Homo sapiens: one gene and its partners. The protein of the gene in region 5 purifies or fractionates together with the protein of the main gene of each other region. This does not show direct contact. Each region holds a gene or a part of one and is shown on either strand. Other genes may lie near its edges.

Region 1 (4,149 bases), on a different chromosome or scaffold from region 5:
TTCGGGGGTCAGCCCAGCGGCAGCTGCCTCAGGCCCCGGGAGCCAGGGCTCAAGGGGTGCAGAGCCTCTAACCCAACTGGGGACCATAGCCATGTTCCACCCACAGTGCTCAGCTACCCTTGCTGCTCATGCCCCTGGGTGCCTGGGTCTCCATCTTCACTCCCCAACAGGCCGACGCATCTTCACTGACCCCAGCCTCTTCTTCCAGGAGGGCTCCTTCTCTGGTTTGCTGAGAGTGCACTCAGGTCCTCCTCACTCCCTGGCAGTTCCCCGGTCTGGTTTTTAATTCCTTCAGACTCTTTGCTTCTGCCCAGAGAGCTCCCTAATCTCCAGGCTTGCTCACTGTGTGGAGCACCAGATCCATGAATCCACCTGCTCTGGGACAGCTTCACCTGGAGTTCCCATAGTCCCCTCATGTTCAGCACGACCCGGGTGGAACCCAGCATCTCACCCCAGATCTGTGACCCAGCAGTCCCCCAAGTCAGAGCTCCCCTCTGAGACTACCCCATCTGCTCATTCCCCCTCTGAAACCCTGTCCAAGGCAGCCCCTCTACACACCAAGGCCCACGGCCCAGCTCAGACCTTTCCTTTCTCCTTGGACCATCACAATCAAGTTACCCACCTCCAGCCACCCTCCACCTTCCATCCACCCCGAAGAGGGCTTGCCAGACACAAAGAAGACCCTCATCCTGAGCTTCATCCACCAACTCCTAACCTAGTGGACTAGCTTGGTGCCAGTGAACAATGGCTAATCTCCATTGACAAAAATCACGACTGGAGAGAATTCCCTCTCTCTCTCTCTCTCTCTCTCTCTCTTTGTGTGTACACACACATCTACATGTATATGTGAACCTGACATTTTTTTTTTTAATTTGGACAGCTGCTGCTATGAGCAGACAAATAGCAAATGCATGTTCAAATAAAACCTCAGAAACAACCGATGACACAGTTGATGAGGCACGTGTGAGCTCACAGTGGTGATTTTAGACCATGGTCACGTAGAGTGTCATGTTCATAAGACAGACTTAAGTGTATCCACATTTCCAGACATTTCACACGGAGCACTGGGACACTCCCGGGTTCTGCTACCATGACATGTTTAAGAACTTCTTACAGGCCGGGCAAAGCCCAACTCCTCTGCCCAGCACACTAGGGGCATTCGCCACTGCCCACTCCACTCGCATACCTCGAGGCTGCACTCACCAGTGAGTACTTTCAGCCTTTCTGAGGCTTCCTGCACAGCCCCCACCCCACCCTCATCTGCACCAGTAGCAGCAAGCCCCAGGCCCCCAGCACAAAGCCTTGCTGAGATACCCACTGAGAAGGGGCTAACTACTGTGTTTGGAGCAAAACATCTCTGGCTGCCCAAACTTGGTCTGGGGCCATCTCCCACCCTGGATGGGACCTCCAGGGGGAAGGCCCAATCTGATACCCTCCTCCAGGCCCCCTAGGGTCCAGCCCAGCCCACAGCGGGAAATCTGAGAGCCCCAGGGATTGCACCAAGGAGGGAGCAGGTGCAGGCTACACAGCCCCAGATCCTGGGAACCCAACCCGAGAGCACATGCCTGATCAGGATGGAAAATCCCACCCAAGGGCCACTGCACACACCATGGACACATTCTAACTGCTCTGGGTGGCCCATGCGCAAGGTAGTGACTGGTCCACGTCGGCCTCCGCCCTATCCCCACGTGGTGTGGGCCTCTGGCTAGTCACTGACCCGAGGAATCTAGACACGGCTCAAGGCGGGTTTCCACCTCTCTCCCTTCACGGTAAGGGATTTACCCCCTGCGATGGAGAGTTCCCAAAAGCCGCTGCTGATCGCGTCCCCCTCGACCCCCCTCCCCACCCATCCAGGGGCCTGAGTTCTCAATCTGAGTTAATCAATAACCAGAGCCGTCAGGCCTCAGTGAAGCGGCAACGCAGGGGAGCGTGAATGGAGGGTGGGGGTCAGGCAGGGGTGTCGACCATTCCAACATGCCCCGCGTGGCTCCAGGCAGTGCTGAACAGTCAGGGGCCGGACTTCGGCGCCCAAGCCGTTGATGTCATGGGACAGAGGAGAGAGGGAGACAGGACTCTGAGCAAACAGAGCCTGGCTCTAAAACAGGGCGGAGGACCAAGACAGGTGCAGCTGGCAGGCTCAGCGGTCCTCCCCCCGCCCTCTCCAACTCCGGAGGGGCGGCAGGACCCCCATCACCTAGTCCGAGCGGCCGGTGAAGGCCCCAACCCCGCAGACGCGAGCAGAGGCAGGCAGTCGGGGCGAAGGGGCGGCACCCGGTTCGGAGCCCCACTCCCTGGCGCCAGCGCACGCGCTCCCCCGGGCTCACCTGGCCGCGGCCGGACAGCGAGAAGGTGGCGTGGCTGGCGAAGCGTGCGCTGCCCAGGCGGGGCGCGCGGTCGGGAACCCCGGGCGCGGGCGGGGGGCTGGGCGTGCCGGGAGTGCCGGGCACCGGGGACATCCCGCTGGCCAAGCCCAGCGCCTCCACCTGGCGCGTCAGGCGCTCGAGCTGCGCCTGCAGCCGCTGGTTGTCCCGCTGCAGGTCGGCCACCGTGCGCGCCAGGGGGCCGGCCAGGCGCATCGCCTCTGCCACTCGCCGCTCCACGCCGCGCTGCAGCCCCCGCATGTCCTCGTGCAGCGCGCGCACCGCACCCTCCAGCGCCGCCTCGTAGCGGCCCAGCGCCTCGCGCACAGTGCGCGCCTCCTGGGCGTCGGGGGCCGGCTCCATGGCCCAGCAGAGCGCGCGGGTCGAGAGCGGGCCAGACGGGGGAGAAGATCCGAGCTCCGCAGCTCCGGGCCGCGACTGGCCGTCCGTGGCTGGCTTCGCTCGAGGGGCTGCCGGGGAGGCGGGCGCGGGGCGGGGCCTCGGGGGCGGAGCCGGGGACGACTCCGGGACACCCCCCTGCCCTGGAGCCCAGCGGGACGGTGCGGAGGGAGAGCTCGCCCAGCCTCTCCCCTCCCCGGCTCTTAACTGAGCCCTGCGACCCCGGAGGAGCGGCGTGCGGCCTGCGGGAGGGGCGGCGGGCCCACCCGAAGAAGGCCCTGGCCCCCCTGGACCGTAGAGAGCACACCCGGGCTGACGCGTTCGCTCGGGACTCTCACCCGCAAGGCCCAGGTTCCTCCGGGGGCGGAGACTCCCGGGCTAATGGGGACACCTACAGCTCCCACAGCTGCCGCCCCACTCCGCGGGGCCCTCCCTATGCAGCGGCCACGGCTCTCGCAGGCACACGCTCACCTGTGGGACCTTCGCCTGGAATTTCTTGTATCTGTTCTAAGACCTCAGGGAGGAGACAGGTGGTGAGGTCCCCTCCCTGACTCTGCGACTACGCGCTGTCCCCTCCCAGTCCTACTCTGTATAGCAAGATCTTCGTGCCCTTCCCACTAGTGGTCGGTAGAGGCTCCCGACCCACCAAGGGGCCTCCGTTAGGAGATCCTGGAGAGGCTAAGGGCAGACAGAGAAAGAAGGGTGTGCTGGAGCTGCATCTCCAAATCCTGGAATGGGCGGCTTTGCGACTAATCGCCCCCTCCCGCAATGAGAGTCTCAGTCACTGGCCTCTACCCGTAGGCCAGGGGTCTTACCCCTATTCCTTCTCAATGCTCTTTATGGCTGAACCCAGATAGTTCCCCCTTCCAAATGCACACCCCAAACCATCACCAGAAAAGGGAAGAAGGGAAACAGGTGTTGCTTTAGGACGATGGGATGATGGGCAAAGCTAACTCTAAGTTTTCGCTATATCATAAAGCTGATTTAAAATAAAAATGAGAACATATCCTCCTTTGTGCAAAAAACCTTTCCTAATTGGCCTTCTTTTTCCCAAGCCTGGCCTGCCTGAAAGAGGCCCAGAGGCTGGGCATGCATAGCCAGCTGACCTGCAGGAAGGAGAAGTCTGAAAGGCTTGTTCATATCATGTTCTGCTCCCAAGGTTGTTTGGAGCCCACAAACCCTCCTGGACTGGCCATCATTGCCCCAAAGGAACTGGAGCAGCCTGACAGATGCTAAATGCTGGTTCTCTCCCCCGCCCCCAGCCCCAAGGGGACAGGAAGGAACGCTGGGTTACCTAATCCAAGGAGCCTTCCAGCAATTATTTCATGAAAAAGGCAAATGCCAAAAGGTGTGCATGCTGCATATATGTGTGAGCATGTGTGTGCATTCC
Region 2 (3,500 bases), on a different chromosome or scaffold from region 5:
ATCTTTGGAGGGCCATCATTCTGTCTACCATGGAGGGATATGGGTTGGGTTTAAATGTCAGCATTCCCGAACCCAGCATGAGAAGGGAGACAGTCCCAAATTCAATATGTAAACTTTTACTGAGCCCATCAACTTTCTGTACAGTGCTTCATTCCCACTCTCAGCTGGGCCTGATATGCAAGAGTCTACTATGAGCTCTTGACTCAGTTCCTGCTAAGTGTAAAGCTCGTCTTCTGCCGGGGTGGAGGACAGTGAGGGAGAAGGAACTATGGGAGGTCTCACTGTCCTTCATACAGATCAGTCCTCTTGCTTTTGGTCTGAGACCTTACTCCTGGCTACGACTTTTTGGTGTTGCTCATGCCTGCGCCATTGTGACGTTCTGCAGTGTGAATCTGCTTGCTTCTGGCTTAGACTTTCCCCTCTATGGGCTTAGCTTCTGTTTAGACTGCTCAGCATTTTCCATTGTTCATCTGTTTTCCAACTTCCAAAATTTTATTGGTATTTCTGAGGTGGTACTTGCCTATCTCCTGTTGTCTTTATGTCTGTGGATTTGTCCTTCAACCCCAATTCTTTTCTGTCTTTTGGAGGAAAAAGGATATAACTCTCTGTGTTGAATGTACCTTGTTTATTGAGAACTTGCTTTTATGCCCTTCATGAAAGCATTGCATGTCCATACAACTTCAATCAGGCCTCCAGTCCATCTAGGATTCTCCCAAGGCAGTCCTTCCTATCAGTGGGCAGGTTTTTTTTGTTTTTTGTTTTTTTAAATTTAAGAGACAGAATCTCCCCCTCACCCAGGCTGGAGTGCAGTGGCGTGATCATAGTTCACTGCAGCCTCGAATTCCCGGACTCAAACAATCCTCCCTGGGCAGATGTTTTGAACCTTTACTACTGATGCCTCAGTTTGAGTACCAGAACTGTTTTCAAAGATGTAGACATATGCAAACTGTGAGTTCTCAGACCATTTCTGAAAGGCCAAACACTCCACGGACCACCACTCAGTTCTCCTGTAACCTTGAGAATAGACGGGAAAAGTGTGATTGTTCTGTTGAGATGGAAATGAAATTTCAAAGTGGAGAAAGGGAGAAGACAAATAGTGAGGACAAACCAGAAGTGGGAAGAGCTAGGGGCAGGAGAGCGGAGAAAGGATGCACAGAGAAGTAGAGTAAGGAAACAGGTTATTGTCTTAGGGTCCCTTTCCAAAGCCTTTCAAAATTCCAAAGGAGGGATGGCCAGTACTTGGCACCAGTCAAGTTAGGAGCTGAGTTTGAAAGAGTTAATCTCTACACTAACCCCCAAAGTATCCATTTAAACCTCATTTTATGAATGGAGAATGTAAGGCTATGAGTTGAGCATGACTGCTTAAAGTTGAAAAATTATTCAACATAGTTATTTTAAAGTCCTTGCATGATAACTTATATATCTGATCTGTGTTCCTTCTGCTTTTCAGTCATGTTTCTTTTTAAGCACGTATCCTAAGCCAACCAGCCTTTCTTTTCTTTTCTTTCTTTCTCTTTCTTTCTTTCTCTTTCTTTCTTTTTCTTTCTTTCTCTCTCTCTTTCTTTCTTCTTTCTTTCTTCCTTTTTTCTTCCTTTCCTTTCCTTTTCCTTCCTTCCTTTCCTTTCCTTTTCCTTCCTTCCTCTCTCTCTCTTTCTTCTTTCTTTCTTTCTTTCTTTCTTTCTTTCTTTCTTTCTTTCTTTCTTTCTTCTTTCTTTTCTTTCTTTCTTCTCTCTCTCTTTCATGGAGTCTTGCTCTGTCACCTAGGCTGGAGTGTAGTGGCACAATCTCAGCTCACTACAACCTCTCCCTCCTGGGTTTAAGCAATTCTCCTGCCTCAGCCTCATGAGTAGCTGGGACTACAGGCATCTGCCACCACTCCCAGCTAATTTTTTATATTTTTGGAGAGATGGAGTTTCACCATGTTTGCCAGGCTGGTCTCAAACTCCTGGCCTCAGGTGATCCACCCACCTTGGTCTCCCAAAGTGCTGGGATTACAGGGGTGAGCCCCCATGCCTGGCCCTAAGTTTTTATTTCTATCTGTCCTAGAAATATATCCAAATCTTTAACTTTTCCATCGTATCTGTGTAATCCACAAATGCAGAATTTTCCATGAGAGAGGGGATTTAAAAGATCTGGTTTGTTTCTTGAAGTGTTCTGGCACCTGTCAGACTGTGGACCTTGATTTCTGGTTCACTCTACTTGTAACTTGCAGCCTCCCTCCCTCTTCCCAGTAAAATAGATTTGCATGGTTTAATGTTAGATGACATGGACCTGAGTGATGAGATTTGAGCTGAGGAGCAGGGAAAGGGGCAGAGTAGGGGAGCTTGTCAGTGAAACTTAAGTCTCAGAAGGTAGCTTGGTGCTGAAAGACTCCCCAGGATGGGCACTAGGAGGATGCAGGCCAGCTGGGAACGGTGGTGGGAGACTGGCGGTGAACGGACACATCTCCTGCTGAATGCAGTTGGCCTTCACCTTTCTCAGTCTGCCACGCGTGATGGTGACGGGAGCTCAAGGAATACAGTGGAGGTTTGTCGCTTGGTCTCCAGCCGGGGAGGAGGCTACCAGGGAGAAGCACCTGGTATAATGCATTTAACCCAGAGTTCTTCAAGCATTTCTCATTGCTACTGAGCATGAATCTTGGTGAGGTGTTTATTCTCTGAGATCTGAGGATTTGAGCCATGAGGCACCCAACACTCAGGCTTTTCCCCTAATCTGTAGTCATTCTACAGAAACAATAGGACTGTGCCTAATTTAATAGAAAATAGATAGAAAGATATTGATGGCAAAGTGGATGAATTACATTTGGGGGAGATTTAGAGAGTAAGGAAGGAGAGTTTGAATAGTAACATGAAAGGACAGTAGGGCCAGTAAGATGTGACTTGTGGACATTTATTGTCTAAGTATGTTTTGAAGGAAGAAGGAAGTATGGGACAAGGCATTGAGGATGCAAGAAATGAAGTCACCTGGCTAAGAGAGGAAGGACTGGCTGAAGAGAGGAGAATAGAGTCTAGGGAGGAATGAGATCCAGCAAGAGATAGGGTCAGCTGGGGCATTTTCTTACCAGAGATCTGCAATCTCCTAAGACAGGTGTTCCCAACCCCTGGGCTGCAGACCAGTACCCATCCATGGCCTGTTAGGAATCGGGCTGCACAGCAGGAGGGGAGCAGTGGGCCAGTGAGCATTATGGCCTGAGCTCCGCCTCCTGTCAGATTAGCGGCAGCATTAGATTCTCATAGGAGTGGGAACCCTATTGTGAACTGCATGCAAAGGATCAAGGTTGCGTGCTCCTTATGAGAAAATAATGCCTGATGATCTGAGGTGGAACAGCTTCATCCCAAAACTATCCCCTCCACCCCATCTGTGGAAAAATTGCCTTCCACAAAGGTACCAAAAAGGTTGGGGACAGCTGGCCTAAGAAGAGTAGGAACTGAGACATCCTGCTGGAGGGACCATGGGGGTGGGAGGCAATGAACAACTGAAGAGAGATTTACATTTGTGGG
Region 3 (3,500 bases), on a different chromosome or scaffold from region 5:
GCCGTCAAGGCTTTGGCGTGAGGCGCTAAGCCTCCCTGGCTGAGCCACATCTGAGGCCCCGTCAGTGCTGTGTCAAGGTGACCAAATTATAAACTCCCCAAGGGCAGGGACAGTTGCTGTATGTCCTGCAGTGCCAGCCCAGCAGCTGGCACATGTCGGGAGGGGCTCAGTAAGCAGGGGCAGCCAGGGAAGGTGAGAGGGGGCAAGGGCTGTTGGGTCCAAACCCCTGCCCCGTAGGTGTGCCCATACGATGCAGAGTGTGGGGTCCCACAGCGGTGTATAGGATGGGGGAAACAGGCCCAGCCAGAGACCCTACCCCCACCTGTCCACAACCCAGGGTCCTCATGGCATCACCAGGCCGGCTGTGCACTGTCCCTCCTTTCTCCACAGAGGCAGGGGCTAGGATAGTTCCTTCAGGGGCATCATCCGTCTCTTGTGGGCGAGGGGATGGATGCATAGGTCCCGGCTCTTCCCTCATGAAGACAACTGAGGCTGCTGGGAAGGGTGTAGCTCCTAGTTGGCTACCCACCAGGCAGGCTCCGCCTTTCTGAACCCCTCCGCCGGGAAGGCTCCAGGCTGTCAAGCTAAGGACCACCCAGATCCATCTAGGAATGAGCCCTTGGGCCGGTTCCTTAATAAACTCAGATCCTTCCCGGGAAAAGCATCAATTGAGATTCTCATGCCAGATGTCCACAAGGCTGGGGCATCTGGGTCCACCTGAAACAGCACCCTTAGCCAATGCTCCAGGGAAACCAAAGGCCCAGGCCTGGCCCACATCAGGATGGGGTGTCCTCCGCAGGGGGTCGCCTGTGGCTGATTTCTTACCAAGGACAGCATCTTTCCGGTTGCGATGGCGATCGCAGACTCCAGGGCCCCAGTGGTGGAGAAAGTCCAGCAACTGCCGCAGGCACCCTGGAAAGGCCAGGGGAGAGCAGAGGACATCAGTGATGGGGACGCCGTGAGACAGCCCTGCCTTCTGCCTTCCTCTGCTGACCCTGCCAGAGCTCCCGAGTCCCCAGGTGCCTTGGCAGTTTACCAAGCCCTGTTCCAGATCCATTCATTCTGAGCCTCGCAGGCCCTGTTCCAGATCCATTCATTCTGAGGCTCGCAAGCCCTGTTCCAGATCCATTCATTCTGAGCCTCGCAAGTCCTGAGAGGCTTGCAAAGGAGCAGGAGCAGCAGGTGGCCTCTGACCAGTGCCTGTGGACTCCCAATCACCACCTCTTGGTGGCCAATCCCCACCATTCTGCCAGGGCCTGGAGTCCCCCACCCCATTCTGCAGTCTTCTGGCTCTCTTCCTTCTCGATCTTCACTGGCTCCTCTTTTCCCTACTGGTTCCCTGCAGAAGGATGCCCCAAAGTTCTGTTTTTAGAACCTTCTCTCACCTTTCCACCTCCAGTCTCTTCTGCCCAGTCCTGTTAAACTAACAGCTCCCCAAACCCTAGCCCAGTGCTGACCTCCACTTAGGCTCAGACATCCAACTAACTGCCAGACAACCCCACCCAGACACCCCTGACACCCCAGACTCTGGGGGACCCGCCCCATCCACCCATTTCCCCACCTTCTAACAGTTCATTGCCGCTGCCTAGCCCCCTTATTCACAACACCTCCAGAATAACATGAGGATTAGGTGTGGGGGGCTGCAGCCTGCCTGCCTGGTTCACATCCCAGCTCTGCCACACACCAGGTGGGTGACCTGGGCAAGTCACTTCCCCTCTCGAAGCCTTGGCTTCATTGCTTGTAAAGTGGGAATGGCGAGGGTTCCTGCTTGCAGGGCGCTAGCAGGGTTAAGTCAGATTCTGCTGGTCAGGCAGTCACCCCCGTGGGCACAATGCTGGTGGCTGCTGTAAGGATTTCTCTCAGGTTCATCTCTGTTTCCTCACCTTGCTGGTTCAGTCTTCCAGCTTCTACTTCTGAAATGTCTCTTAAGTCCCCTACCTGCCTCCCAGGTCATCACCCTAGGTTGACACTGGCCTCACCCAATCTCTTCCCTTCACATATCTCTCTCAGCTGGGGGAGGGAGGGACGGCCTGGTGAGAGGGTCCATGAGACAGTCAACGAGGCAGACGTGGCCACTTCGGGGGAGACTAAGCTCACTGCTGAAGGAGGCGGAGCTCGGCTGACCCTTGGGTGCTCGACTTGGGGCAGGGGCCTGGTTTTGAGTCCCCTTTGTCACTTACTTACCTTGGACCTCAGGCAAACCACCCTCCCTCTCAGGCTCTCCCTCTGTAAAGTGAGAAACTCTCAAGGAGGGTGCTGAGCTGATGGACGCTGTGGCTGCTGTCCGTCTCTATCCCCACACAGCGGCCACAGTAAGAGACGGCACACATCTGCGTCAGGAAGCACCTCATTCCGCTCCCTTAGCCCAGCCGGCTGCGTCCTGCCTGATGGCCCAGGATCAGTTAACAGGAGGACTTGGAAAATTCTTGGTGGGCCTCTCTTTCCCACCTGTCCAAGTGGTGGGCAGGTTTAGGTTACGTGTTGCTCTGAATTGTCATGTGGTTCTCAGAGGGTCTAAAAATGTCACGGGGCAAAGGCAGGCTTCTACTCCACCTCCTGCTGCAAGGGGAGGTTTGCTTTGGCTCCTGATGCTAGTTAAACATCCAGCACTTGGCAGGCTCCAGGAACACTGCAAGCCCGGGAGGCTTTAAAGCTGTGCTGCATGGATGGCTTTTTGGAAAGTGAAAAAACATTTCTCATGGAGAATTTCGATGGAAAGCCAGGAGTTTCCAGGAAGGAAACCTTCACCTCATATTTCCTAGAGTCCAGAGGTCGGCATCCTTCTGAAGAAGGCCACGGCAGGTTCCCTGCTAGGGGAGGGGCCGCAGCAGGCCGGGAGAACAGCGGGGGCAGGGTCCAGACTCTCTGGGACAGGGCCTGTGCTGAGATGCCCCCAGACTGCTCCCCCATGGAGGAAGGCAGGGCCTCTCACCTTGCCAAGCCCTCTGTGCCCCACAGCAAGGGCCACGGAGGCCAGCCCCTGCCATGAGAAGCTTGCTGATGCATGACACATGGACTAACCAGAGGGAGGCGGCCAGCCAGGGCAGGGGCTGGACCCTGGTGGCTCGGAGAAGATGGAGGCGGGAAGAGGAGATGCATGGGGTTCTGGTGTCCAGATGGGCACAGGGAACATAACGTTTTGGATGGCTCTGTAGGAGAGACCTGGGACCAATGGGAAAATCTGGGGCGTGGGGAAGGAAGGGAGTAAACTTTAGCCCAATAAAGAGGAACTTTTGCATCCTCCAGAGCAGCCTAGAGAAGTGCTGACCTCCCTGGCCCCTCAAAGGAAGAGGGCTGGAGAGATGCCGAGAGGAAACAGAGGCAGGGATGTGCTTGTGGTGGTTTTGTGGACCTTTTGAGTTGTTCTTCCTGGTGTATTGTCTGGGAGTGTGGCCGTTTTGCAGGGAGAGGATGGAGATTGCCAGGCATACCTGATTTTTCACAGGTGAGACAAAATTTCCTTTTTTCCGCCAGTCCACGGAAGGTGGGTAGGGACCAGT
Region 4 (3,500 bases), on a different chromosome or scaffold from region 5:
AAGGGACCCTCTAAGAGTTATCATCATTCACTGAACAAACACGTATTAGCTATCATTTAATAAGTACCTACTATGGGCCGGGCGTGGTGGCTCACGCCTGTAATTCCAGCAGTATGGGAGGCCGAGGAGGGTGGATCACCTGAGGTCAGGAGTTCGAGACCAGCCTGACCAACATGGACAAACCCTGTCTCTACTAAAAATACAAAAAAAAAAAAAAAAAAAGTACCTACTGTGTGTCCTGGGAAGACCACAGTAAATCAAACTCGGTCTCTACCCTCAAAAAAACTCACAGAGGAGCAAACCATTACAACACATTACAATTTTTATTCATTATAAACAATTTTAATACAGTACTACAATGTCATACTGGATATGTACGAGGTGCTAGGGGACACGGAGAGGCACATAAGCTATCTAAGAGAGTTCAGGGCTTTTAAGAAGACATGTCACTGAGCTGATGAGTGATGTGACAAAACTTATAACACTTAGGATCAATCTCTTAAGCTCCTCTACCACTGCATGTACGTTCCTCACCCTCCAAATCACCAAGTTTCTCTAAAACACAGTTCTGACACTCTTTTCCAAGTTGTCACTGACCCCTTCATATACTTCCCAAGCCAGTGAACCTGACATAAGTGACTCATTAACATCTGCATTGTAGCCAACAAGCTCAATTCAATCTATAAATGTGTCCTGAATGTCAACTATGTTGCAGGAACTGTACTAGGAACACAAAAGAAAAAGATGTGGCCCTTCCTCTTCAGGAGCCCCCAACACAGTGTGGAAGACAGATATAGACAGTGAACTCTAATACAATAAGATAAGTGCTATGTCAGACTTACGAATAAAATAGACAAAACAGAGACACTGTGACTGCAAAGGATCTCAATAGAGGGTGAGGGAGTAAAGAAAGAGCCTAACATTCATAGGGCTCCTACTACATGCTAGATATTGTGCTGGGGACTTTATATTGCATTTAATCTTTACACCAGTCTGAGAGGTAGGTTATTATCACTGTTTTACAGAAGAGGAAAGAAGGCCCAGAACTGTTCACTAACTTGTTCAGGGTCACATGGCTATTAAATGACAGGTTAGATATGATTTCTACGTTCATGCTTTTCAACCCACTTCCTCCCTTGCCCCAAACAGTAAGTGTGCTGCCTATTGTAAATATGGTTGTATCTTCCCTAAACTATACCCAAATTCCTCAGTTTTGAAAATGGTTGCTGCAAATATTCTGTTTTCCCTTCACCCAATTTATAGACTGTCTAAACCTAAAATCAAGCATCAGCGACCTTACCTTCTTCCTACCCTGACTCTCTTCCATTTTTAACTAGAGTACAAGTCTAATCCCATCTGTACTGTTGCCTACACTGTATTTCCCTCCTATATAAAATACGCTCTTTTTCCTTCATCACTTGTTATTAGTTACACTCTCCGGATAGGTCCGTATGTCCCGCCCCACTCCACACCTTTGCAGCCTCCATTCGCCTTTTCCTTTCTGAGTCAAGAATCTCTAACTGCTTACCCAGAACCGTAACATAAGCCTTGGTCGAGTCAGGAACAATGTCCACTGGGAGCTCCAGGGAGACAGATTCAGATGCCACCTTTCCTGTGAGATGCAGAAAAAAAGGTGACACAATAGAAGATGGGGAATGGCAGGGGTTCTCAAGACAAAATTTTAGAAGAACTTTCTATAATCCAGGGATTTCTGTACTCGGTGCTTTCTCTGGGATGCAGAAAGCACTGGGTACTATTCATAGTGATCTTGCTGAAAATAAATTCCACAGAGAGTCATCATCGTGCTGCACACTTTCTCTTCTTCCTCCTGCCTCCCAGTTAATCAGCCCCATGAGGAATGGCACTTCAGACTCTCCTATTCCTTCTGGTACTATGCATTCCTCCTTTTGCCTATGAAAATCTCCTGCTGCCGGGTGCAGTGGCTCACGCCTGTAATCCCAGCACTTTGGGAGGCCAAGGCAGGAGGATCACAAGGTCAGGAGTTCGAGACCAGCCTGGCCAATATGGTGAAACCCCATCTCTACTAAAAATACAAAAATTAGCCAGGCATGGTGGCATGTACCTGTAGTCCCAGCTACTCAGGAGACTAAGGCAGTAGAATCACTTGAACCCGGGAGGCAGAGGTTGCAATGAGCTGAAATCGTGCCACTGCAATCCAGCCTGGACGACGGAGCGAGACTCCGTCTCAAAAAAAAAAAAAAAATGAAAAGAAAATCTCCTGCCCTCTAAGGGAATTCTCACCACCAATCCTGCTCTGAGTCCACCCACCTTTTGGGCACAGCAATGAGCTGTGTGTCTTCTCCACCAGGACTCCCTCAGGCTGCGATGAAGAGAGACACAGATAAAAACAACAAAGATGAACATCAGGAGGGATGGCACTAAAGGAAAGGGAAGGGAGGCCCCTCGCTGTGCCCCCAGGGCTTCCCTCAGAACTGCAGACAAGAGCTTCTCACTGAAGCTCAGAAGAACTCTGCGTCAACCCAAGGATGGGCCCTTTCTGTAAAGTTCTTTCTGGGCAAGTGCTAGAGCCAAAGACACATTTAGGCAACTTCTAAGAGGCAAGATTGACAATGGGCTTCATGATGGGACGAAAAAGGCAGCTATTGATGAAGACAGACATTTTAATTAGGTAAACTAACATTTGTTGAGTGCCTATGAGGTGCCGGGTTTTAGGTGCTTTCATAGGCCGTGGGTGTGGATTAGGCAAATGTTCAAGGGGCCAGGGAAGGAGAAAGTTGAAGCTGCCTGGTTGGACTGGAGTATGGTTGCTGTGAGAGACTAACTCACAGCAAGACGAGATGCTGAGCATCCCTCGGTTGGTTGCTGTCTCTACCTCTGAAGAAAACTCACTTTGACGAGAACTGGCTTGATGAGCGTGTCACTTCGGCCCTTTTGGGGAACAAACCCCTTCTGGCCCCCACATGGTTCATTGCTGTCCAGAATCTTTGTACTAATAGTAAAGTTAATGTGACCTGAGAGAAAGAAGAAGGGAAGCCATTAGCCCTATTGCCAGAGGTACCAGTGAGGTCCATTCCCATTTGGATCAGCATTTCTGAAACTTTAATGGGGATCTTGCAACAGTGCAAACTCTGCTGCCATAGACCTGGGGTGGGGCCCATATTCTGCATTTCTAACAAGCTCCCAGGTGATGCCAGAGAGGCTAGTCCAGTGTGGTAGGTAACCTCTAAGGGCCCTCAGAGATCCCTGCATCCTGATATTTACATCCATTGAGTGTGAGCTGGATTGAGTGACTCGCTTCTGTTAAAGAGAACAGGGTGAAAGTAATGACTCTTCTGGGATTAGGTTACAAAAAAGACTGCAGCTTCCATCTTGGGTGCACCCCTTTTCTCAAACTGCTTGCTCTGGGGAAGACAGCTGTTGTGTGATGAGGCAGCCCAGCAGAGAGATTCATGTGATGAGATACTGAGTGAGGCCCCTAGCCAAAAGCTGAGGTCAAGAACTGTGTCCTTCAGTCTAGC
Region 5 (3,500 bases):
ACCTCATACTCGGAATGGCGTGGTAGCCCAATCGGAAGCGGAGTTTGCTGGACCCAGCAAAATCTACAATCACCTTTTCCCCCACAGTGTGCATATGCTTAAGGAGTTCAAGGTGTTCCCTGGCCACAGCCTTCAGACTGGAAATGGAGGTCCACGGTAAGACCAGCCAATGGTAACGGGCCTTTGGGTATTTATCCTTTATCACCACCACCTGCTCATCTTTGTAAACCTAGCAGAGGGATACAAGAGAAGGAAACAGACATCTACTAAGAATCTTCTGTGTGCCTGGTTGTTATATTCACTAAGTCACTTAATTCCCACAGTCTTGTGCAAATGGTTTTAATAGCCCAGTTTTGAGAGAGGAGAGCACTGAAATTCAGACAGGTTGAGTGTCTTGCACAAGTCATAGTTCCTAAGAGGGAAATCTAGGATTCCAACTCAGATGTGGTTGACTCCAGAGTCTGTTTTCAACCACCACACTACACAGAATACACAGAAGATGCACAGTACAAAATAGTTCCCAAGAATGTGATGTAAAATCTCTGTAGACATAAATTCAAAAGCATCCTTCTCCACTCCAACATGGCAGACTGTGTGACACGTACACGTGGGTTCCAGTGAGCCCTATTAGACCTGCCCCTTGTCAACAAGGAATATAATTGAAGTGGGACTCAAAGGCTCCTCAAGGATGATGCCTGTTTTTTTTTTTTTTTTTTTTTTTTTGAGATGGAGTTTCGCTCTTGTTGCCCAGGCTGGAGTACAATGGTGCAATCTCAGCTCACCGCAACCTCCACCTCCCGGATTCAAGTGATTCTCCTGCCTCAGCCTCTCGAGTAGCTGAGATTACAGGCATGCACCACCATGCCCAGCTAATTTTTTGTATTTTTAGTAGAGACAGGGTTTCTCCATGTTGGTCAGGCTGATCTCGAACTCCTGACCTCAGGTGATCCTCCCGTCTCGGCCTCCCAAAGTGCTGGGATTACAGGGATGTCTGACTGTTAATGCCAGGGCAGCACAGTACTACTGTCACAGTGTATTATCTCTGATGCTCCCCTGAAAGGAACCATACTAAGGTTAATGCAACTTCCCTTAAAGTACCCAGAAGTTTAAAAGGCACAAGGCAGAGGGGATATTCATTTGAAGAACTCAGCTTTCTCTCCAAACAATGACAGCTGCTACTTTATTGCCAATGTGAAAAGCCTCTTGTTCTCACAGAACAGCCCAATAAAATGAATCTCATTCAGAAAGACTGATATCCTTTGATTTCATTTGTAATTAAGACCTCTGTGGAGTGGTCATTTACAACATGAAATGTACTGAAATTCCAAAATTGTATTCTGACCTGCATTTTGGGGTCCTGCATAGAAATCTTCAAGCCTTGACTCCAGTGGCCCAGGGATTCCTAAAAAAAAAACAAAAAAAAAAACAAAAAAAAAAAAAAACAAGCAATGTAAATTACAAATGCCAATAATTAAATTTGGCAACAGTTAATACTGTGTGATAGCACAACTAAACTTGGAAATAAGCTTAGTTTTTGAGAATTAAACAAGATTCACTTGACTCTGCTTCACTCCATTGCCTTCCTATATTCTCTTTTTTTTTGAGACAAAGTCTCACTCTGTCTCACCCAAGCTGGAGTGCAGCGGCGTGATCACTGCAACCTCCGAAGTGATTCTCCTGCCTCAGCCTCCCAAGTAGCTGGGATTACAGGTGCCCACCACCACGCCCAGCTAACTTTTGTATTTTTTAGTAGAGACGGAGTTTCACCAGGTTGGCCATGCTGGTCTTGAACTCCTCACCTCAGGTGATCCACTGGCCTCCACCTCCCCAAGTGCTGGGATTACAGGCGTGAGCCACCACACCCGACCCTATATTCTTTCTTTTTTTTTTTGAGATGGGGTTTCGCTCTTGTTGCCCAGGCTGGAGTACAATGGCGTGATCTCGGCTCACTGCAACCTCTGCCTCCCGGGTTCAAGCGATGCTCCTGCCCAGCCTCTGGAGTTGCTGGGATTATAGGCATGCACCACCACGCCCAGCTAATTTTGTATTTTTAGTAGAGATTAGGTTTTGCCATGTTGGTCAGGCTGGTCTCGAACTCCTGACCTCAGGTGATCTGCCCATCTCGGCCTCCCAAAGTGCTGGGATTACAGGCGTGAGCCAGCACACCCAGCTGTTTTTTATTATTGTTGTTGTTTTTTGAGATGGAGTCTCGCTCTGTCGCCCAGGCTGGAGTGCAGTGGTGCAATCTCAGCTCACTGCAACCTCCGCCTTCCAGGTTCAAGCAATCCTCCCGCCTCAGCCTCCCGAGTAGCTGGGATTACAAGCATGTGTGTACCACCAGGCCCAGCTAATTTTTGTATTTTTAGTAGACATGGAGTTTCACAATGTTTGCCAGGCAGGTCTCAAACTCCTGACCCTCAAGTGATCTGCCCACCTCGGCCTCCCAAAGCGCTGAGATTACAGGCGTGAACCACTGCACCCAGCCAGCCTTCCTATATTCACAGCTGGCTGTTCTAAATGAAGGCGAGAAATGCCAGAGTATGAGTCATACCTTCTTTGCCCTCTCTCACTGCAGCTACAGCCTGACCAATTCTCCACTTTGACATCAGCATATGAATTACATGATCTATGAAAACCTTCTATAGATGCATAAACAACTGATCCACTTTAGTTGTTCAATGTTAAGTACACACTGCCATTATTGTTGTACCTTCAGGTGGCTTACCTCAGGAATTTAAGAAAAAAGCACATAAAGGAACATTCATCCAAATGATTTTCACGCCACAAACAAGTGACTCTTTCATCATGGTTAATAACCCCTCACGCATTTCTGAACTTTAAAGTGTACAAAACAATTAAGCAGTCATTATATTTCATTTCTTCTCCACATCATCTACCAATCACACTACCCTCACCTTTTTGATAGGTGCATCTTTTCCCTTCTTTAGGGGCACAGAGCATTGGCCAGAGTTGCTCCCAGGTTCCAGCCCTGTCCCAGCCTCAGCTTCCTGAGCAGCATCCCTTTCTATAGAATCACTGTTGCCTGATCTCTTTCTCTTCCTGTGTGTTTCCAGGCCAGGGTTCTTTGCCTCTTCCTCAAACTCTACAATATATGGATAAAGTTCATTCACCATGTGGAGAACCTGGCCAGGCTGCAGCTTCACCTCTTGGTCCTTCCCAATTACGACTGAGTCAATGCTGGTGGGATTGACTCCTACCTATGGAATAAACAATCAGAAAATAATTATAATAATAGCAACAGCACCTACAGTAAGATAGCCACTGCTATGTTAACCACTTACTATATGCCAAGCACCTTGCCTTATGTTCACCTATATTACTCCATCACTTCCATACATGACAGAGAAGCCTTCACTGGCTGGCACAGACACTCTAAAGTCAACAGCATAAGAAAATCATCGAGTATAAAATTCCAAGTTATAAATACACCTACCTGCTTTACCTTGACATATCCCTTGTTACACTCTGCTTTCAACTGT
Region 6 (3,500 bases), on a different chromosome or scaffold from region 5:
GGTTGTCAGTAGCAACCTTTTCTGTTGCACACACATGTGTGCACACACAAAAGAATCCTACCTTCCTAGTAGATAGCTGAGTGTTTCTTCCATCACCTTGCCAATTCCTAGTCTGTCCACTTCAGTCATTGAAAAGTATTTAATGCCTAGAGTTTTCAAAATGTAGCTATAAAAGAGAAATTAAGATAATTATAATTAATAAGGCTGACTGTGCCCGCCTGTCTCCTTTTAAGGGAAATATAAATATAGTAAAATATATAAAACATTTAGGTTCTATGAACCTAACTCAATATAGTTTTATTTGTATTTATTTTTAACAGCAAGTCAATTGAGATTTAATTGCCTGGATACATACATATGTATGTACATGTATATAAATATATGTGTGTGGGCATGTGTGTGTGTGTGTGTCTTGATGTTTAATTTTCTCTCATAGAGTTGGTCAGTAAAGCATATCTAGCACACAAAGGGACAAAAATGGAGGCAAATCACATCAAGGAATAAGCTTACTGTTCCCCAGGGTCCACGTCTCTCAAGCCAATATACACAATATCCTTGGCAGATATACAGGGAGTCACCCAGGAGAATCCTGGCACATCGGGAATCTAAAATTACAATGTTTTCACTTGGTTATGTATGATTCTCTTGAACAAATCCTACATTCAAAGGTAAAGACACATATTGGATTGCGTATATCTTATATTTAGAATATAAATACAGAAGAAATCATGTAAAAATAATACACAATTAAGAAGAGGATGTGTGCCTCCCCTTGATTGCTTTGACTTTGCCTTGAACCAGTTGGCATTTACCTACTTTGTGCCCCAGTCCTGCTGGGCCCTTCTTTCCCAGGGCTCCTCTATAAAGAAACGATTGTGCTCCCATTACTTTGGTAGCTTCCTTCTTTACTTCCCTTTCTCAGTAAGTCCTTAATCCAGAGGATGGCCTAGAGCAGCTGAGGGAAATTTGTGGCCTGTCCTTTGGTTATTCTTAATGTGATAATATGATGATATCTGCTTTGTCCTCCAGGACGTTTAGTTTTTCCCATGTACTAGGCAGATACTTTGCAAGTTTATAAACCCATCCCTTGGTCATTAGTTCAAAAGACATTATTTCTGAGCATTTAACATAAGGAGGTTTTAACCTCTTGTATCATCATAAGGACCAAATATTATAATTGTATCAATAAAAACTTTTTATTGATATACTATGGCATATCAACAAACTATGGCATATCAACAAAGTTATAAGCTGTAATATTAAATCTTAATCTGCCATTTTATTTTCCATCTTTTAGAAAAGGAGTTTCTAGGGAGCAGGGAGATAGTTCTTTCTCTTATGATTTAGATAGGTGCTTCTCCCAGTAAATACATTAGTTCATAAACCATTATATCTGAAATTTTAAAATTTCTTTTTTGAAAAGCCTCTATGATATAGAAGGACTACTCAGTAAGAATGCAGAACTGTGTGGCATGTAGTGGAAAGAGGAAGGAATGAGGAGACCTGGTGCTAGCCCTTGCTTCACTATAGGCTTGGCATATATCTTGGGCAAGTTGGTTAACCTCTGAACCTCCACTGACCTGTTTATAAATGATTACTCTCTGCCCCACCTACTAAAAGGATAGTTTAAGAATTAGCAGAGAAAATATATATTAAGTCAGTTTGCAAGGCAGAGATAGAGAGCCTCACTGCCTTTTATCAACCAACCCTTTGCTTATTGGCTGCAGAGAAAATGATTTGAGATTACACCAAGAATAAGATAACATGGAGTTTCTCATTTCCCTTCCACCTCCTGAATGTCTACTAAAAAGTATTCTATTGCACTAGAGTACCAACCAGTCTTTTACCTTTCCTTTTAGTTCCTTCAGGAGGAAAGATACAGGTTGTCCATGCAAGTTTCCACTTGTGGTTGTCAGTGGAGTGTTGATATCAGTGTGAGCATCCACCCAGATGACTCCAAGATCAGGGTGGACCCTGGCATGGCCAGAGATGCTTCCAATTGCCAAACTTTTGGGGAAAAAATTTTGTGTGAACATCAGGTTTGCAGTGTCACTACATACATCATATTATTCACTCAATGCTCCCACTTGGTTTTCCTTTGAGTCACAGTGTCTGATATTTCTGATAGGTTCTGAATTGGAGATGCCAATTAGTTAAAACAATAGAGAAAGCATAACTTACACTTAATGCTCACTAACTAGTTATATTTACATCGATTGCATTACTAAAAAAACTGTGATTTTTTTTCCCAAAATCCACCTTGTAAGAAAACCACGATTAGAGCGTAGCCAAAAAAATAAATGAGTATAAAAATACTAGCCACACAAGAAATTCCTTAGCATGAGACACTGTTCAATTCTCAGAGTTAAATTTGGATCATTTTCTGTACACTCATCTCTCTTGGTAAATACTTAATTCTCTCAAGTGAATTATGACAAAGTCTTTCAATTTTTCTTAAAATCCAGCTTTTATAATTTGAGAGCATCACTCAGAAGTTCTTACATGTTCTTACTCAAGTTCTTCAGCCAGCGTATGGCGTGTGTTCACTCATTCTATTCAATGCATCTAGTTACCCACTCAACCAGGAACAAAGTTCATCCCAAATACTTCAAGCTCCAGACATTTTGCTGGAATGGAAGACATAAATGATATCTTGCACAGAAGTTAAAAGTTAGGATTTATTAGGTTGGTGCAAAAGTATTGCGGTTTTGCCATTTAAAAACTGCAATTACTTTTGCACCAAGCTAGTACTATACAATGCCTGTATTCTCCCATTTGTGAATGTTTAAGTATCATTCAGAGAATCATGAGCTTTTAGATTCTCGAAGTGGAAGCAATAATGCCTTAACGTTCAGGTATGGATTATTCAGTGGACGTTTGTTTTCCCTTTAGGTTTCTTGTCTTTTGCCATGTGCCATTCCTAAAATTTCCACTTAACAAAGAAAGCGAGCCTCAGTTTCCCAATTGCAGTTTTGATACAGAGGCCTTGGTGACAGTTTGGCTTTAGAAGAGGAAGCCAAGGAGACCTGAAGTCATTGACTGCTCAAGAGCCATAGAAGTGTTTCTACTTTTAGATCTAATCAGGCCTTTCTGGTAAAATTATCCTAGGCCTTGGGAGTAAATATTTAAAGAGGCTCATGCACAAAAATGGTCTTTGCCACATTATTTGTAATGGTGAAAATTATAATGCAACCTGAATATGCCGCAATATGTACGTATATAGCGATGTAACCCCTTGATGAAAAATCATGCAGCAATTAAAAAACTGATGCTTATGATGCTTATGCACATCCCATGAAGCAACAAGGAAATTTGCACTGTAGAGTGAGAACACAACATAGACATCTGTCTCTCTCTCTCTCTCTCTCACACACACACATACACACACACACACACGTTAAACAAAGTCATCATGTACAAGGAAAAAAAAGATGCCATGAAAGAAATGTGCCAGATTTTCAATTCTGGTTGAAATGGTTGCTAGAGAAGTACAATTACCA
Region 7 (3,500 bases), on a different chromosome or scaffold from region 5:
AAACTCCTGCTATTTAAACCACTCAGTCTGTGGTAATTTCTTATGGCAGCCCCAGGAAACGAATTCACACTACTAAATGAAAATAGATCTCTGTCTATCAATATCAACACCAATATTTATATACAGGGATGATAATGACCTTAGTTTTCCAGTTCTTAATAGCATACTGAATAATTGTGCATGATTGTATTTCAGGTATGTAAAATAAAATTGTTTGTTCACTTATTTTCTTCCAATCACCATTTTCTCTTTCTCCTTTTTTTTTGGTTTTAGATCGTTATAAGTTTTACAATGGACTCTCTTGTTACAGCAAACACCAAATTTTGCTTTGATCTTTTTCAAGAGATAGGCAAAGATGATCGTCATAAAAACATATTTTTCTCTCCCCTGAGCCTCTCAGCTGCCCTTGGTATGGTACGCTTGGGTGCTAGAAGTGACAGTGCACATCAGATTGATGAGGTACGTGTCCACTAGGGTGCTACACAGGGTCCTAAACTCTGGGTCCACACTCAAAGTCAGACCCTAATCCCACTTAGGCAAGCCAAGGGGCTTATTGCACCCTGGGCTTGGTCAGAACCCATCCCTGTCTCTGAGTCTTTATTTGTATTTTCTCCATCTTACTTCCTCTTCGATCCTACCATTCTTAAAGTCTCACTTAAACTTGTACCTTCTTTAGGGTGCTCCTCAACTTCATGTCTGGCAGCTTTTCTCATTCATCTCTATCTTTATCTCTGTATGCATGTCTGTCACTCTTTTACTCTATGATTGCTAATACCAATATTGCTAGCGATTTTTAGTATGTGTATATGTCTTCTGTCTCACTCATTTCATTAAATAAATATTCATTAAGTACCATATATGGTTCCAGTGGCTAGAGAGCTTGGTGTCCTCCTGGACTCTTTCTCTCTCACTTTATACCACATTTGTTAGAAAATTCTGTTGGCTTTTCTTTTGAAAGATATCCATAATCCAGGCACTTCTCCCAGTCTCCTTGAGGTCTGAACCACAACCATCTTTTCTCACCTGGATACTGCAGCAACTTCCTGATGGGCTTTCCTGCTCTCACTGGCAATCTATCCTTTGCACAGCAGTCCAAGAGACCCTTTTAAAACCTGAGCCAGATTCTATTTCTCATCTGTTCAAAAACCTGGATTTCTTATTTCACTCATGATAGCAGTTCAAGTCCTTACAATGGCCCACAAGGATCTGGAGATCTGAATCCCAGATAAGCCCTGTGACTCCATCTCTCACTTTCATCCCTCCTCACTGTACCTGTCACATTGGCCTCCTGGCTTCCTTGGGTAAGTCATGCCCATCCTATCTTGGGGCCTTTGCTCTCGGTCCCTTTGCCTGATGGCTCTTTCCCCTGGTAACTGACCTCAGCTCACTTTCTTCTTCAAGACTTTGATCAGTGTTTATCTCCTATACGGGGCCTACTTTGACCTCCTAATCTAGTGCTGCATCCTGACCTCCAGACCATAAGGGATACTTTTGTAGGCACCTAATAAACATTTCTAGAATAAATAAATGAAGGTAATAAGAACAAATCCCCAAATAAACTACAAGTTCCCATGGTTGGCCTTATACTTCCTTGGATGTAGCACATAGTGCGGGGGTTATGCACAACTCAGGCTGTTTCCCCTGAATATGGAGCAGTAGAATTTATGGATTAAGACAGAATGTGTTTCTGGGGTCATTCTGCTTTATTCATCTACTAAGATTTGGTGTATTATTTTCTTATTCCATTAGCAAAACTTAGCTTTAGAGTGTGGTTTGCATCTTGCAGGGCAGAATTCAGATGTTCTTTCTTAGGCAGTTGAGGGCACCTGCTGACCAAATGGGTCTGAGTAGTGCAGGATATGACGCCTGTCTCCTACCTTTCTACCAGGCTCTGGATAACTTGTCTTTTGCTGTCCTCACTCCCTTGATTCATGTGAAACTCTAGATCAGCACTGTCTGACACAAACATAATGAGAACCACATAGTAATTTAAAATTTTTTAGTAACTGTATTGCAAAAGTAAAAAGAAACAGGTGGGACTAATTTTAATAATAATTTTTTAACCTAGTATATGCAAAATATCATATCCACATATCATCAATATAAGAATTTTAATGAGCTATTTTATTTATTTATTTTTTTATACTATATTCAAGATCTGGTGTGTATTTTGCACTTACAGTCAATTCAGATTGGGTATCTATGAAATGCTCCATAGTTACATTTAGCTTGTGGATACCTCTATGTTCTTTTAGTTTGGTTATATTTATTCATAAATGCTCTCCCAGGGTAGCGGTTGGTTCTTCTCCTCGATTCCACCTCCCAACCCAAGTACAGAAGCACCCACTTTCCTTTAAACTGTTGTTGATTGTTTTGTTTGACTATGTAATCATTGCCATTGTCTCATTATGAAATGTTTCTGAAGTTATTCAGGCTTCCCTCTGTTCATATTATCTGAAAGACCCCATCCCGTTATCATGCAGGTACTACACTTCAACGAATTTTCCCAGAATGAAAGCAAAGAACCTGACCCTTGTCTGAAAAGCAACAAACAAAAAGTGCTGGCTGACAGCTCTCTGGAGGGGCAGAAAAAAACGACAGAGCCTCTGGATCAGCAGGTGAACCGCCACCGTAGAAAACTCTTGCCTTTCTTTTTTACAAACTGCTTATTCTGGCTGTAGGATATTTGGTGATAGTTGCTTATCCCCAAATATTAGACTCTGGATACCATCAACAGCAATAACCTCATGTGATCTGTGATTCCTGAGTATGGATCTCAGATGTCCTTGGCTATCAGCTAGTTTCCTAAAGAGTAGGATCTGGTGTCTTCTGCTTATGATAAAGAAGCCTAGATCATCACTCTGTCCCTCATCTGCTTCTATAGGCCACAGGGCCCCAACACAGAGTATGGTCAAAGATAAAGGTGGTAAGGGGTAGGGTCAGCTGTGGAATTCTTACTGTCTCCCTCTATCTCTGCTTGTTCCATTTCGTGCTGAAATCTGCACTGACAGACAAAACTTTTATTGGTTGCCTCATGCCAGGAGGAGGAAAGATATTATCCAGGGTATGCATCCCCCTACTTTAGAAAGTTTAAGAGGAGGGTGGATAGATGATTGTCTTTCTTTCTTTCCTTCCTTCTTTCTTTCTTTCTTTCTTTCTTTCTTTCTTTCTTTCTTTCTTTCTTTCTTTCTCTCCTTCTTCTCTCCTTCTCTCCTTCTCTCTTTCTCTCTTTCTTTCTTTCTTTTTGTTTTTTCTGAGATGGAGTTTCGTTGTGTTGCCAGGCTGGAGTGCAGTGGCGCAATCTCAGCTCACTTCAACCTCCGCCTCCTGGGTTCAAGCAATTTTCCTGCCTCAGCCTCCAGAGTAGCTGGGATTACAGGCATGAGCCACCATGCCTGGCCTCTTTGAAATGTAAAGAAAATCAGAGTGTGTCAGTCTGAAATATAGTGAGCGTTGCTGAGTTCCCCAGATGTATTTTTCCTGGATGATCTTGATATAGA

The links.
Region 1: the proteins of APTX (region 5) and SMTNL2 purify together in Homo sapiens (affinity purification with mass spectrometry; one large-scale study listed by BioGRID and IntAct). This does not show direct contact.
Region 2: the proteins of APTX (region 5) and CSTA purify together in Homo sapiens (affinity purification with mass spectrometry; one large-scale study listed by BioGRID and IntAct). This does not show direct contact.
Region 3: the proteins of APTX (region 5) and CTSH purify together in Homo sapiens (affinity purification with mass spectrometry; one large-scale study listed by BioGRID and IntAct). This does not show direct contact.
Region 4: the proteins of APTX (region 5) and A2ML1 purify together in Homo sapiens (affinity purification with mass spectrometry; one large-scale study listed by BioGRID and IntAct). This does not show direct contact.
Region 6: the proteins of APTX (region 5) and ARG1 purify together in Homo sapiens (affinity purification with mass spectrometry; one large-scale study listed by BioGRID and IntAct). This does not show direct contact.
Region 7: the proteins of APTX (region 5) and SERPINB12 purify together in Homo sapiens (affinity purification with mass spectrometry; one large-scale study listed by BioGRID and IntAct). This does not show direct contact.

Annotation. Positions count from the first base shown.
Region 1 is NC_000017.11:4,583,180-4,587,328, reverse strand, and holds the start of SMTNL2 (smoothelin-like protein 2), read right to left. Parts: upstream 2,801-4,149; 5' UTR 2,724-2,800; coding exon 2,325-2,723; intron 1-2,324.
Region 2 is NC_000003.12:122,331,748-122,335,247, reverse strand, and holds part of CSTA (cystatin-A), read right to left. Parts: intron 1-3,500. UniProt on the Homo sapiens protein: This is an intracellular thiol proteinase inhibitor. Has an important role in desmosome-mediated cell-cell adhesion in the lower levels of the epidermis.
Region 3 is NC_000015.10:78,931,547-78,935,046, forward strand, and holds part of CTSH (pro-cathepsin H isoform a preproprotein), read right to left. Parts: coding exon 3,432-3,500; intron 913-3,431; coding exon 826-912; intron 496-825; exon of another isoform or gene 51-495; coding exon of another isoform or gene 1-50. UniProt on the Homo sapiens protein: Important for the overall degradation of proteins in lysosomes.
Region 4 is NC_000012.12:8,853,621-8,857,120, reverse strand, and holds part of A2ML1 (alpha-2-macroglobulin-like protein 1 isoform 1 precursor), read right to left. Parts: intron 2,994-3,500; coding exon 2,872-2,993; intron 2,342-2,871; coding exon 2,290-2,341; intron 1,613-2,289; coding exon 1,529-1,612; intron 1-1,528. UniProt on the Homo sapiens protein: Is able to inhibit all four classes of proteinases by a unique 'trapping' mechanism. This protein has a peptide stretch, called the 'bait region' which contains specific cleavage sites for different proteinases.
Region 5 is NC_000009.12:32,984,629-32,988,128, forward strand, and holds part of APTX (aprataxin), read right to left. Parts: coding exon 3,455-3,500; intron 3,219-3,454; coding exon 2,916-3,218; intron 1,403-2,915; coding exon 1,343-1,402; intron 230-1,342; coding exon 3-229; intron 1-2. UniProt on the Homo sapiens protein: DNA-binding protein involved in single-strand DNA break repair, double-strand DNA break repair and base excision repair.
Region 6 is NC_000006.12:131,579,726-131,583,225, reverse strand, and holds part of ARG1 (arginase-1), read right to left. Parts: intron 2,008-3,500; coding exon 1,848-2,007; intron 606-1,847; coding exon 511-605; intron 167-510; coding exon 62-166; intron 1-61. UniProt on the Homo sapiens protein: Key element of the urea cycle converting L-arginine to urea and L-ornithine, which is further metabolized into metabolites proline and polyamides that drive collagen synthesis and bioenergetic pathways critical for cell proliferation, respectively; the urea cycle takes place primarily in the liver and, to a lesser extent, in the kidneys.
Region 7 is NC_000018.10:63,555,869-63,559,368, forward strand, and holds part of SERPINB12 (serpin B12), read left to right. Parts: intron 1-273; coding exon of another isoform or gene 274-291; coding exon 292-459; intron 460-2,483; coding exon 2,484-2,618; intron 2,619-3,500. UniProt on the Homo sapiens protein: Inhibits trypsin and plasmin, but not thrombin, coagulation factor Xa, or urokinase-type plasminogen activator. May play a role in cell differentiation.